Linked DNA regions of Homo sapiens: region 2 is linked to region 1. Evidence: fine-mapped expression QTL. A gene starts in region 1. The other region holds a variant in brackets. All regions are shown on one strand. Distances are between the middles of the regions.

Region 1 (5,374 bases):
TATTTTTCTTCCTTCTCTAGCCTGGCAGGTATGGAAATTGCCTCCCTCATATTTAGTTCCTGGAGAGACTGGCTCTGGGGTAGAAATTGAGCTGCTCAGGACTTCTTGCTTTGTGCCACTTTCTCATTTGGGTGAGTCAGCTTCAGGCTCTCAACAAACGCATCCTTTGCAGATGCTTCTAGACTCTGTTCAACCCCAGAAATCTATCTGCTGTGTGTCTCTTGCTGATCCTGGACTTGAGGGTGTCTATGCTTTTCTTTTCCCTGGCACTTTTGTCACCTTCCTTTGGCAGTGATCTGCTCCCTTATTTTGTGTCCCTCACCACTGGAGACACCCCACCAGACTCAGCTGGGAGTCCTGCAGTTGAGGACTGTTTACTGGAGAGTAAAATGGAGGTTCAGGCAGATAAAGAGAAGGAGGCCTAGGCCTTTTGCCAGGGCTATATGGGACCCATTGATAGGATGGGTGGGCTTTGCTTCCTCATCTCCTTACCTTCAAGGATCCTCTCTGAGCTGGAGAATATGGCCCAGGCAGGGGGAGGGATTGACTCTGGGGACCCCTTTGGACCTGGAGCATAAGGTTAAGTTTGGAGCTTTAGAAAGTTTTTAGCAGGCCAAGTTTCAATTGTGCATTTAAATACTATAGAGACTGAAAATGTTCACATACCTATCCCCAAAAACCTACAGCCCTTCAAGTCTCTCCACCATTATACTCTTCTTCGACATGAACGCTATGTTAGGAACCCCTGTGAATGCTATGGGGATCCCAAAAGATCAGACCAATCCCTTCAGGGAAGTCCTGGAAGAGATGGCATTAATTATGGTACCAGGGGAAAGTGCTCAGCACACAAGAAGTCTAGATTACATGTGTGAGAGCTGGGCAGGCCTCGTGCACAGGAGATAAAGCAGTGTTTGAGGACAGTGGCCATGCACTGCAGGCCAGGACCACACTCTTTCATCCAGTTTAGGAATCAGGAAGTGGCTCCACTGCTCTGCCAAGAGCACAAAGCATAACTCTTGCCTGTCTCTATTCAACATGGGCATGTGTACTTTTCCATCACTGACCCCATGAGCTTCCTAAATCAAAGGACCAAGGAAGGCCAGCAGAAAGGGGACCTGGATTTCTGGCAGATAATTTCCCCGAAGGAGTCCTTAGCAGATTTGGCTGCAGTCAGGGAGTTCCTTTGAGGGCAATGAAACAGAAGTTCACCATGTGCTTATTAGAGGTTACAACCTGCTAAAAAATGATGGGGTACATTACCCAGAAACTTCTAGCTATTTCCTTTGCCAGCCACAAAGATACATGCTGAAAAGCCTGAGGAGGGAGACAATTTCGTCCTTTTTTCTTTCCCTTTTTCCTTCCATCTCTCCCATTTCCATTCGTTCCTTCTCCTTCTCTCCTTTCTCTCTCCCTCCTTCCTTCCCATTTTCTCTTCCCCTTCTTCCTTTTTTGTCCTTTCTCCCCACCTTCCTTCTCTTCTCCCCCCACCCTTTTCATATGGCAGAGACAGAGTTAGGAAGGATTTGTTCAAGCCCTCCTTTTTAACAGGAAGAATAAAGGAGGATGAGAAAAACCCTACACCAAATAACCAGCTAATCAAGGACGGTTAACATTGCTGTTGCTTTGGTAGTTACTCTAAAAACAAACGAACCAACTACTTGGGGTGGGGAATGAGGGGTTGGCATTTAATTTGAGAAAATTTAAAAACGCATCCTGACACAGCCCCAGTGAGAGCATTCATTCCACCATTCACATATCTCGAGGACTGCCCGAGAGAGGTGAGCGTGTGAGTGAGAACAGTGCCCAACCCTGGCAGCCTCTAGGCTAGCGGCCGAGAGAGAAGCGTTTCAGAGGCCGGGGTGGGAGTAGAGCCTGGTACCCCACTTCCTGGGGACCCACAGCGCCTCATTTGCCGGGGCCCAGCGTCCATTCATCCCTCCCAGCGTGGAGGCCGTGCCCCTCCGAGAGTTACCAGCCCCGACCTCGCGCACCCATATTCCATCCCACCGCCCCCGCCTCAAAGCGAAGAGGTGGGCACCTGGGACGCGCGTCCTGCTTTTTCTGCCCGGGCTCTCCCGTCTCCTCCACTTTTGTCCCCGACGTCCCAGAACGGCGGAGCAGGACGCGGCATCAGCCCTGGGAGGGCGCAGCCTGCGAGCCTCCAGCGCGCTCAGGGCGCGGCGAGGATGCTAAAGGACTGCAATGGCCAGGATGCAGATCCCCAGCTCAAATTCCTGAGGAAGACACCCGCCTCCCTTTCCCTCTGTCCCCTCTCCGTCCTCGCTCGGACCCGCTCCTCCCCAGCCCAGACGTCAGTGCTCAGCGCTCCTTCGCTCGCCACTTTGCGAGGAACTTTGGCCGGCTCCCCTGCGCCACCGGGAGCGGGATGTTAATGAGAGAGCGTGGCCTGGCGCCGCCAGCGAGCCGGCTCCCGGGCCGCGATTGGCTGCGGTGGGCGGAAAGATGACGTTATGCAAATGAAGGGGCGGGGCCTCGATGCGCGGGCCCCGCCTCCTCCCTTTGGGGTTAGTGTGCCTGTGTTTAGCTCTGGGGAAAGTCAAACTGGATTCCATAGGGAAAGCCTGCAAATCACTTCTATTTTAGCAAGGAGAAAACAGAATCTCCATCCAGCAGGGTCCACCCCTCTCTCTTTCTCCCTCTCCTCTCTATCTCTCTTTCCCTCCCCCCCTTTCCTCTCTCCCTCTCTCCCCTTCCCCCCACCCTCTCTGGTGTATCTGTCTACGGCAACCAGCGTCCTCCTCATCTACACGCAAAGGAAAGAAACATCTTTGGTTGGGAGAGAAGGAGGAAAAAAAAAGAGAGAGAGAGGAAAAAACTTGCCTGGTTGTGGAAAATGACACTTGAAGTAGCAAAGCCGGCAGCGCGAGTTGAGTCTATTGTTTCTTAAATTGCCATCAGGGTTTTTTTTTTTTTTTTTTTTTTTTTTTTTTTTTTTTCTTCCTGCTTCTTCAAGTGAAGGGTACCTCTACAAAAGGAAACTCCAGCCCCTCCTGTCCTCCACCGGCCTGTGATCATTACAAAAAAAAAAAAAAAAAAGCAAAAAAAAAAAAAAAGCACCCAAACCAAAAATCAACCAACCAAACAACCCCCAACAGCCAAGCATACATCTCTAATTTTATTATTTTGGTCTTTTCGTTGGATTTTCCCTTTCTTCTTTTTTTCGGGTTATCGCTCAGTTTTGAGCAGAGGTTTACATTTTTTAAAAATTTGCTTTCCAGCCCGCCTTGATCTTCTAAGTGCGAGTTCATCGTCTGAGAAAAAAAAAAATCTCTGGTTGGCGTTTTTGTTTCTTTTCTTTTCTTTCTTTTCTTTCCTTTTTTTTTTTTTTTAATTTTTTTCAAGGGGGAGGAGATTTTCCACAAGAAAAGGTTGTTTTCATGTTTGGGATTCAGGAAAGCATCCAACGGAGTGGAAGCAGCATGAAGGAAGAGCCGCTGGGCAGCGGCATGAACGCGGTGCGGACGTGGATGCAGGGCGCCGGGGTGCTGGACGCCAACACGGCGGCGCAGAGGTGGGTACTGCGCGGGGACCGCGGCCGAGGTGAGCCGCGAGCGGGAGAGCCGGGAGGCGGAGGCGGCAGCGGCAGCGGCAGCTGCTGCCGCGGGGCCGGGCGGCGGGGTGAGTCCGCAGCCGCTGCGCTCCGCTCTCCGCCGGGGCTCCGCGCTCTCCAGCCGCTCTGCCTTCGTCGCCTGCGGCCGGAGGACCTGGAGCTGTCTGCGAGGAGCCCACGCTTTGCCAGCACTTTCCCCTGCCTCGTCTGTGACTGTTTTCATTTTGTTTTAACCCAGAAGAGGCGTCTCAACACAGCATGTTGGAGATCTGTGTTTTATGTTTTTATGTGATTGCTCTTTCTTTTCCGGCCGGCTCTCTTTTCTTCTTTCCCTTCGCTCTTCCTTTCCCTCTTTTCTTTTTTCTTTCTTTCTTTCTCTTCCTTCCTTCCTTTTTCTTTCTTTTTTCTTTTTCTTTCTTTTTTTCTTTCCTCCTTTTCTTTTTCCTTTTTCTTTCTCTTTCCTCTTCCTGCCTTTCTTTTTTCTTTCTTCCTTCTTTCCTTTCTCCCCCCTTTATTTTCTTCTCTTCTCCTTCCTCTTCCTTTCTTCCCCTCTTCCCTCCTTCCATTTCTTTCGTTCTTCGTTCTTTCCTGTCTCTCTTCCTGCCTTCTTTTCTTTCTTCTTTCTTTCATTTCCTTCTCTCATTTCTTTCCCCCACCTTCCCTTAATTTCTCCCTCACTCTTTTCCTTCCTCCCTTCCTCTCTCCATTTTCTTTCTCTTCTTTCTTCAGCTTCCCTCCTTTCTCCTCTTTCTCCTTTCCTTACCTCTCTGGCTTTCCTGTTTTTTCGTCCCATTTCTCCCCTGAGTCTTCTCTTATTTCTGCTATCTCGTTCTCCTTCCCTCCCTCTCTGTCTTTCAGTTTTTTCTTAGTCTACCGGTAGAATAGCAACTCCCAACTTTAATTCTGATATCTCCCAAAAGTCTTCTCCAGCCCCTGTCACCATGGCCCCTTCCAGCCCTTCTCTCACTCGCAGCTCCCTAGACACTAGACTGTGTGGCCTGGAGGCATTGCCCTTGGAGGTTGACCTGAGGGAACTTTCCTGGGCACACCCAAGGCTCTTTCCCAGGCTCCTGGTCCCAAGTGAGAAATGGCCTTTTTCCCCCCATTAAGCCACCAGCTGAGCTTGGGACAGTGGGAGATCTGGTGGCCCCAGGCCCTATCGGACTCAGAGTGCGGAAGGGGAAGAAGGAAGATGACTAATTACATCATCTCCAGCTTCCCTGGGCTGGGGACAAGTGTCCCCAACACTGTTCCCATCCCCACTGAGTATTAGGATGGGGGTGGGTGGTAGTGAGAGTGAATTGGGTAACTGGGCTGGAAGTGAAAGTGTGTGCGCGGGGCGCTCGTGTGTGTTCTTCTATGTGTGTGTGTGTGCCTGTGCGCGCTTGTGTTGGGCAGGTCCGGCTGTCAGTGGCCGCCTGGCGCCCCAGGCGCTCCAGCCTCCCATCGCCGGCCGGCGCACTGAGCCAGCAGCCCTGGCCTTTAGGATTTCTGGAATGAGTGTGAGGATTTCTGCGGAACAGCGAAACTTTGTTAGGACAGGTCTTTAAGAAAACACCCCTCTTCCCTTTTTCACAGCGACCACCCGCGACAGTTCTGAGCCCCGCCCTCGGACCCTTCTCCACATGCTTTTTGGTGGTGGGGGGATGTGGCTTCCCAAGGCCGGGCACTCGCAGTTGGCCAGAGCTTGAGGGGTTCCTGGAGGGTGGCTGCTGCGGCGAGACGCCGAGCATGTTTTCCATCCATTCCCACCTGCCCTGCTAGCTGAGACGTGAGATTCGAGGGGTGCCGGAATATAACTGT
Region 2 (5,374 bases), 53 kb after region 1:
GAAGACAAAAAAGGGACAGCAATTCTGGGGCTGGGGCTGGATCTCAACCAAAATATCTAATTTCAATTTAGTCCTGGCTTCTTAGCTGGAACAAAGAGAAAGTTTTTACATTTTGCAGAATATTTAGTTCGCCTCAAAGTCTATTGGGTTAAAATATATGTGTGTGTGAGTTTTTCCTTTCATAGTGGTTCAGAATGCCTGAGAGTTTGTCTAATCAAGACTCAAACATTTTGAGTGGATTTTTTTTCCCTCCACCATCCTACTTCTCTGAGATATCTTTTCTAGTTTTAAGAATCTCACAAGCTCCCTCAAGTGATGCTTAATTAGAGGAGCTTTCTATCCACTAAGTATTTTCTTAAATGTATAATTGATTGTGCAAGGAAGGAAGAGCTGCTGGAGTGGAAATCATACATCATTTCATTATTAATGGCAATGTCTAAGTAAAATGCAGACATTGTCATGCTAATGGATAGCTGTGTATGTTTAGCTTTAAATCAGAAGCTTTTTTCCCCTTTACTGTTCTGGGATCATTTTAGGAAGTTTAAGTAGCATTTAATATATTGATAAATACCTGCTAGCATGCTGGGCTAAGGTTGGAAAAAGGAGCCAAATGAAATCCTGACGAATGCAGGGGAATGGTGTGACAAAATGAATAATTTGGGATGCCATGTACATTATTACCTCCTTTTTACTACTTGTGAAGAAGCTGGATTTTTACCTGGATTTAATTTGGAAGACATGTGTATTTAGCACTTACTGTGTACTGCTTCCACTGAAAACATCCACAGATGTCCTCAGAGAACAACAGAACTGAAAAGTTGCTGAACGGCCCTCACCCTGTTTTTGGTGTGGAATTCATCAGCCAGAGTGAAAGAGTCTCTTGTGGATCCTGAAATGGCTGGCTTAGATCAGAGGCTTTCTTAGTTTGCAGTTCCCCAGAAATTAGACCTTCAGCAGGGATTTGGATGCAGGTAGTTTATATGGGCATGATCTTAGGAAGCAGGAAATGAGGGAGAGAGAAGAGGGAAAAAAGGCAAGGAAGAAAAAGTAAGGCAGTGATGTATTATCAGAGTCACTGCTGTGGCTGGTACATGGTCCCATTGGAATCTTCTAAGGGACAGAGTAAAATGTGCCTCCTAGAGCCAGGCTCCAGAAGTACAAGAGGCTAGAGCATTATCTCCTGGCACCTGTCCCCTCTTGGTTGAGGGCTGTCCCAGGGTGCTGGTGTGCAGGCTGGGCATCTGCTTCAGAGTTGGCATGCCGTGGAAGGAAGCCACGACATAGCAGGTTGTGGTCAGGGTCAGACATGTGGCTGAAGTCAGAGGTGGGACACAGGGATGTGAGGTAGGCACCAGATGCATCTGTTATAGAAGCTGAGTGTAAAGTTCCTATGGGGAGGGAAGCTTGATAGTCCATCCTTTTTTCTTTATTGAGTACCTACTGCGTACTTGGGTGTAGGAGGCATCTGGTGATTCTTCATTGAGTCCATCAAGAAGTGCACAAATTCATATACCACAAATGTTTGTTGAGTGCTCATTGTATGTCTGGAGACCATTCTGTCTTCTTCCCTAAGAGTGTTCATGCTGTTGGACCAGGTGTTATGATTTTGCTCTGGAGAATAAGGTATTTCCACATGGAGCATGTGGAAAATATAGTGCCTATCTCCTGAAAGGTCCAGGTGATGCAAAGATGAATGAGACATGATTGGAGGTTTTTCTTCTGTCTGAAATGCAGACAGTTCTGGGTTGGGCAGCTCTGTAAGATGCTGAACATGTGTCCTTCCAAGAAGCAAGGATCAGAAAGCAGACTTTGATGGGGGATGTGAGAGAAAAAGTTCAGACAGGCTTCTATGAATTTACTAAAAGTTTTGGAAAGGTTATACCCCCGTGGGAGGGAAATAGCAGTAATGGGGTATGTGGCAATGGGTACAAAAGGGTTGGGGCTGATGTGTGAAGGACCTTGAAGGGCATGAGAAGAGGTATGGGTTTTCTTTTGTAGGGAGTCTTTTTACACAAAGGGGAACATAAAATTCATGTGGATGAAAACTCAATGTCAAAACATGAATTCATCTTCCTCCTTATTATTGATGGATTTCTCTGTCCCTTCAGTTATAGGAACCGAGGAGTCATCCTTGCTGTTGCCCCTCCCCCATCTCTGTCAGCCATACTAGTTATCTCTCAGCTCTGTCCCCTTTGCGCCACCCCAACTCTGCCACCTGACTCCTGCCTTAACTCCAGATTGGTGTCTCTGCAATCTTTTGGTTTCTCTAGAGACCCTTCTCTCCTTATAGGAGCCAAAGTAAGCTTTTGAGAATTCGAAGCTGATCACGACATTCTGTAGCCTTTAACTCATCAGTGGCTCCTTATTGTTCTTAGGATAAAAGCCAACTTTCTTACTCATCTGCTGTTCCCATTGCTTCTGTCA[C/T]GGACATTCCTTCCTCTCTGAGAAGCTCAATTCATCCGTCAGATTCTAGCCCCTTTCCCTTCAGTTCTCAGAGACACCTTCACTCCCCAGCTGGGTCAGTTCCCAGCATAGGATGCTCTAAGCCCCATGCAGCCAGGAGCTGTGGTTGTTTGTTTACTATTCTATTCCTCCTGACACTCAGTACTCAATAATAAACACAGTGCCAGACACTCGGTACGCAGTAATATCTATTGAATGAGTTATTGGATGAAAAGCAATGTAGCTTGTGGCTGTGGAGGGTACGGATTCTGTCCAGTGTTGTGCTGTAGCTGGCTTATGTGGACTCATGAGAACCAACTGAGTGAATCTTTTCCCAGCTCTGTTCAGTGATATCACATTGGTAGCTTGAAGTCATTCATAGTGGGGATATTTACACCATAGAAATTGGCAAACACTACAGAGCCGGGCTCCCTCCACCCACTTTACTCAGAACACTGTTGATCCTGCCAGTCATGAATCTTATCCAATCTTAGGTTTCTCAGATTTACCCCTCCATACTATGTCTTTGTCACCAGTTTTCTGGAGGGCAGAGATCACATCTTATTAGTCTCTGAATCATTAATCTGTAGCAGAGTGTACAACTCAATAAGCACCTGTTTAAAAAAAGAAAGACGCTCACTAGTAGCTTGAGTCTCCAGTCCTGGCATGCTGTCTCTTCTACTTAATGTGCTCTTTGAGAAAAGGATTTTGAAATGATGCTTTGGCCTATTTGAGGTCTCTTCCCTTCCACCACTCCACTTAGGCCCATGGCTCTTACACATTCCGCTTATGTTACAGTAGAATGTTTTAATAAGTAGGATTTTTGTCATTGCACAAGTCGACACAATTATGGGAATAGCTAAAATTCACCAGTAGACCTAGTGGGTTCAATTCAACAAGATTATTGAGAGCCTGTTTTGTGGGAGATGCTATTGCTCATATGCTAGTGAAACAGACATTTTCTACCCTCGAGGGTCTGTGCACTGAGAGGCATAGTCATATGCAAACCAAGAGTAACTGATAAGATGGTTAAATGGTGGGACAGAGTGTCAGGGGCACCTGTATCGGAATTGATTAATTCTGTGTGGGGGTCATGGAAAGCTAGAGAGAAGGGATATTTGAGTTAGACTTGGAGGAATATACGGAGAGCTGTAGGGAACAGTTCCCAGAGGCAAGGAGATCAATTTGGGAAGTTACTGGGATAGTAATGGCCCAGAGATAATGAAGTCTTGGTCATTACTGGTGGCAGAGCTAGAAGGCAGTGGGCAGGGAACAAAGCTCAGATAGGCTATGGGGAGCTGAGGGAGAAGAGAATCAAGGTGAACTGTCTGGATCATTTTTTCCTCCAGTCCTTTTTGTGGTGGGAAGATGGGAGAATTGGAATGATCTAAATATGGCTTCCTAATGTTCATGTTATCTTGACTAATCTTGATAAGACTTTATGACAACTTTATCTCAAGCTCCTGCAGTTTCAATAGAAATTGGATTTTAGGATGCACAATTTGATTTAGCCAAACAGCTTTGGACTTCCATCCTACTTCATTGTCCCTGAGTGTCATGACTGTCATTGTCTGCATTCTAATTCTGTTTCTATTTGAATCATTCATTAAGTACCTAAAAATTATGCATATAGTAAATTCACAGGATACCATATGCAAATAGGAAGCACCCCTCACCCTGGTCCTAAATAAACATTGTGGATTTGTTAAGTAAATTTGGGAGTTTCAGATCTTTTTTTTAATGCAATGAATTGTAATGTCACACTTCCAATACGACAAGGATTCTTTTTTTTTTCTTCTTCTTTTAAATACAAGGGGAAAAAAAAATTCATTTTGAGTCAGAAAGTGGGTGTACGTAGGGGAGAAAAAAGGAGGGAGGGAGGAACTGTGTATAACTTCTCTTCTGCGTTTTGGCACAAAAAAGTTGCTCCCATCAGCTCAGCTTGGCTAAGAGAGGCCTCCAGATAAGAATTCTTGAGATCTCTGATTCTTCTCCACATGAAAATTTAAAAAACATTAAAAAAAGAAGAAATTACAAATGATCTGATCTTGAATGCCAAAAATCTAACCTTTGATGTTGGCTTTTCGGAAGTTAAATAATGAACCAAAGTTTCTTTTTTTCCTTTTTTCTTAAAGGACTACTTCATAAAGCCTATCTTACTTTATAATAAAAGGAGGAAAACATAAATAAAAGACACTCAAATATTTATACAGTTATTCAAAGGATTAAATGTATTTGGTAAGGTCTTAAGGTTGTTTAATATTTTCCCCTTCTTTTGAATCTTTGTTTTTAGCTCTGGTACATTGAAGATTTTCTTTTTCCTGTGGTTTTGTTTATAGAAATTAACAAATTCCCTTGTGATCCTTAAGAAGTTACTTTAGAAATATACAAATATACATGAATGAGAGAAAGGGGATATGAAATAGATGAGATAAGGAAATATTGTCATAATAACTACACTCTTTATATTACACTACTTAGTTAACACTACGTATAATTGAATAAATGACAACAACAGTGAGTAATAGACTACTTATTTGACTCAGAGAGAAAAATCTTGGGGACCTGCACTTTAGAAGAATATAATTTTACTTTTAATTTTTATGTTATATGAATACTCTGTGGCAATGTACATACTCCACATGTATTTTCTGCCTCGTGACTTACACTGGAAGAGAGAGGAATGATTAGTTTATATGTTAAAAATGCAGTGAATTTTTATTTGTCCTGAGTCCACTTCCTCCACTCCTACACACCAGCTAGGATTCTCTTGTGAGACAGAACACACTTTATAGTTTTGGTTTGTTTAATTATATGAAAATTTAAGTATTCAGACAATAGTTTTTAGTAGATTAAAACAACAACAATAGCGACAACCCCCACAACACCTGCATTAACTTGGGGTCCTTCAAAAGCCCAGTGTTTCCAATAA

Which allele goes with the higher level. Alleles are on the strand shown, and positions count from the first base shown. SD is a standard deviation of normalised expression in the study named.
For the expression in fibroblasts of the gene that starts at base 2,961 in region 1, T is the low allele of the variant in region 2 and C is the other (small effect, 0.08 SD a copy in GTEx).

The links.
Region 2: its variant is fine-mapped to the expression of EBF1 in fibroblasts (GTEx, PIP above 0.99).

Annotation. Positions count from the first base shown.
Region 1 is chr5:159,097,503-159,102,876 of GRCh38, reverse strand. EBF1 (EBF transcription factor 1) reads left to right here and starts at 2,961. Exons shown (of 16, transcript NM_024007.5): 1 at 2,961-3,532. The coding sequence starts at 3,399. LINC02202 (long intergenic non-protein coding RNA 2202) reads right to left here and starts at 2,394. Exons shown (of 3, transcript NR_109890.1): 1 at 2,039-2,394. RefSeq lists enhancers at 1,426-2,052, 2,053-2,681, 4,431-5,324 and a silencer at 3,499-3,788.
Region 2 is chr5:159,044,300-159,049,673 of GRCh38, reverse strand. All of the region lies in intron 6 of EBF1 (EBF transcription factor 1), which reads left to right. Among named protein-coding and RNA genes, the nearest start is that of EBF1, 53 kb to the left of the region's middle. The variant C/T (reference allele first, on the strand shown) is at 2,425.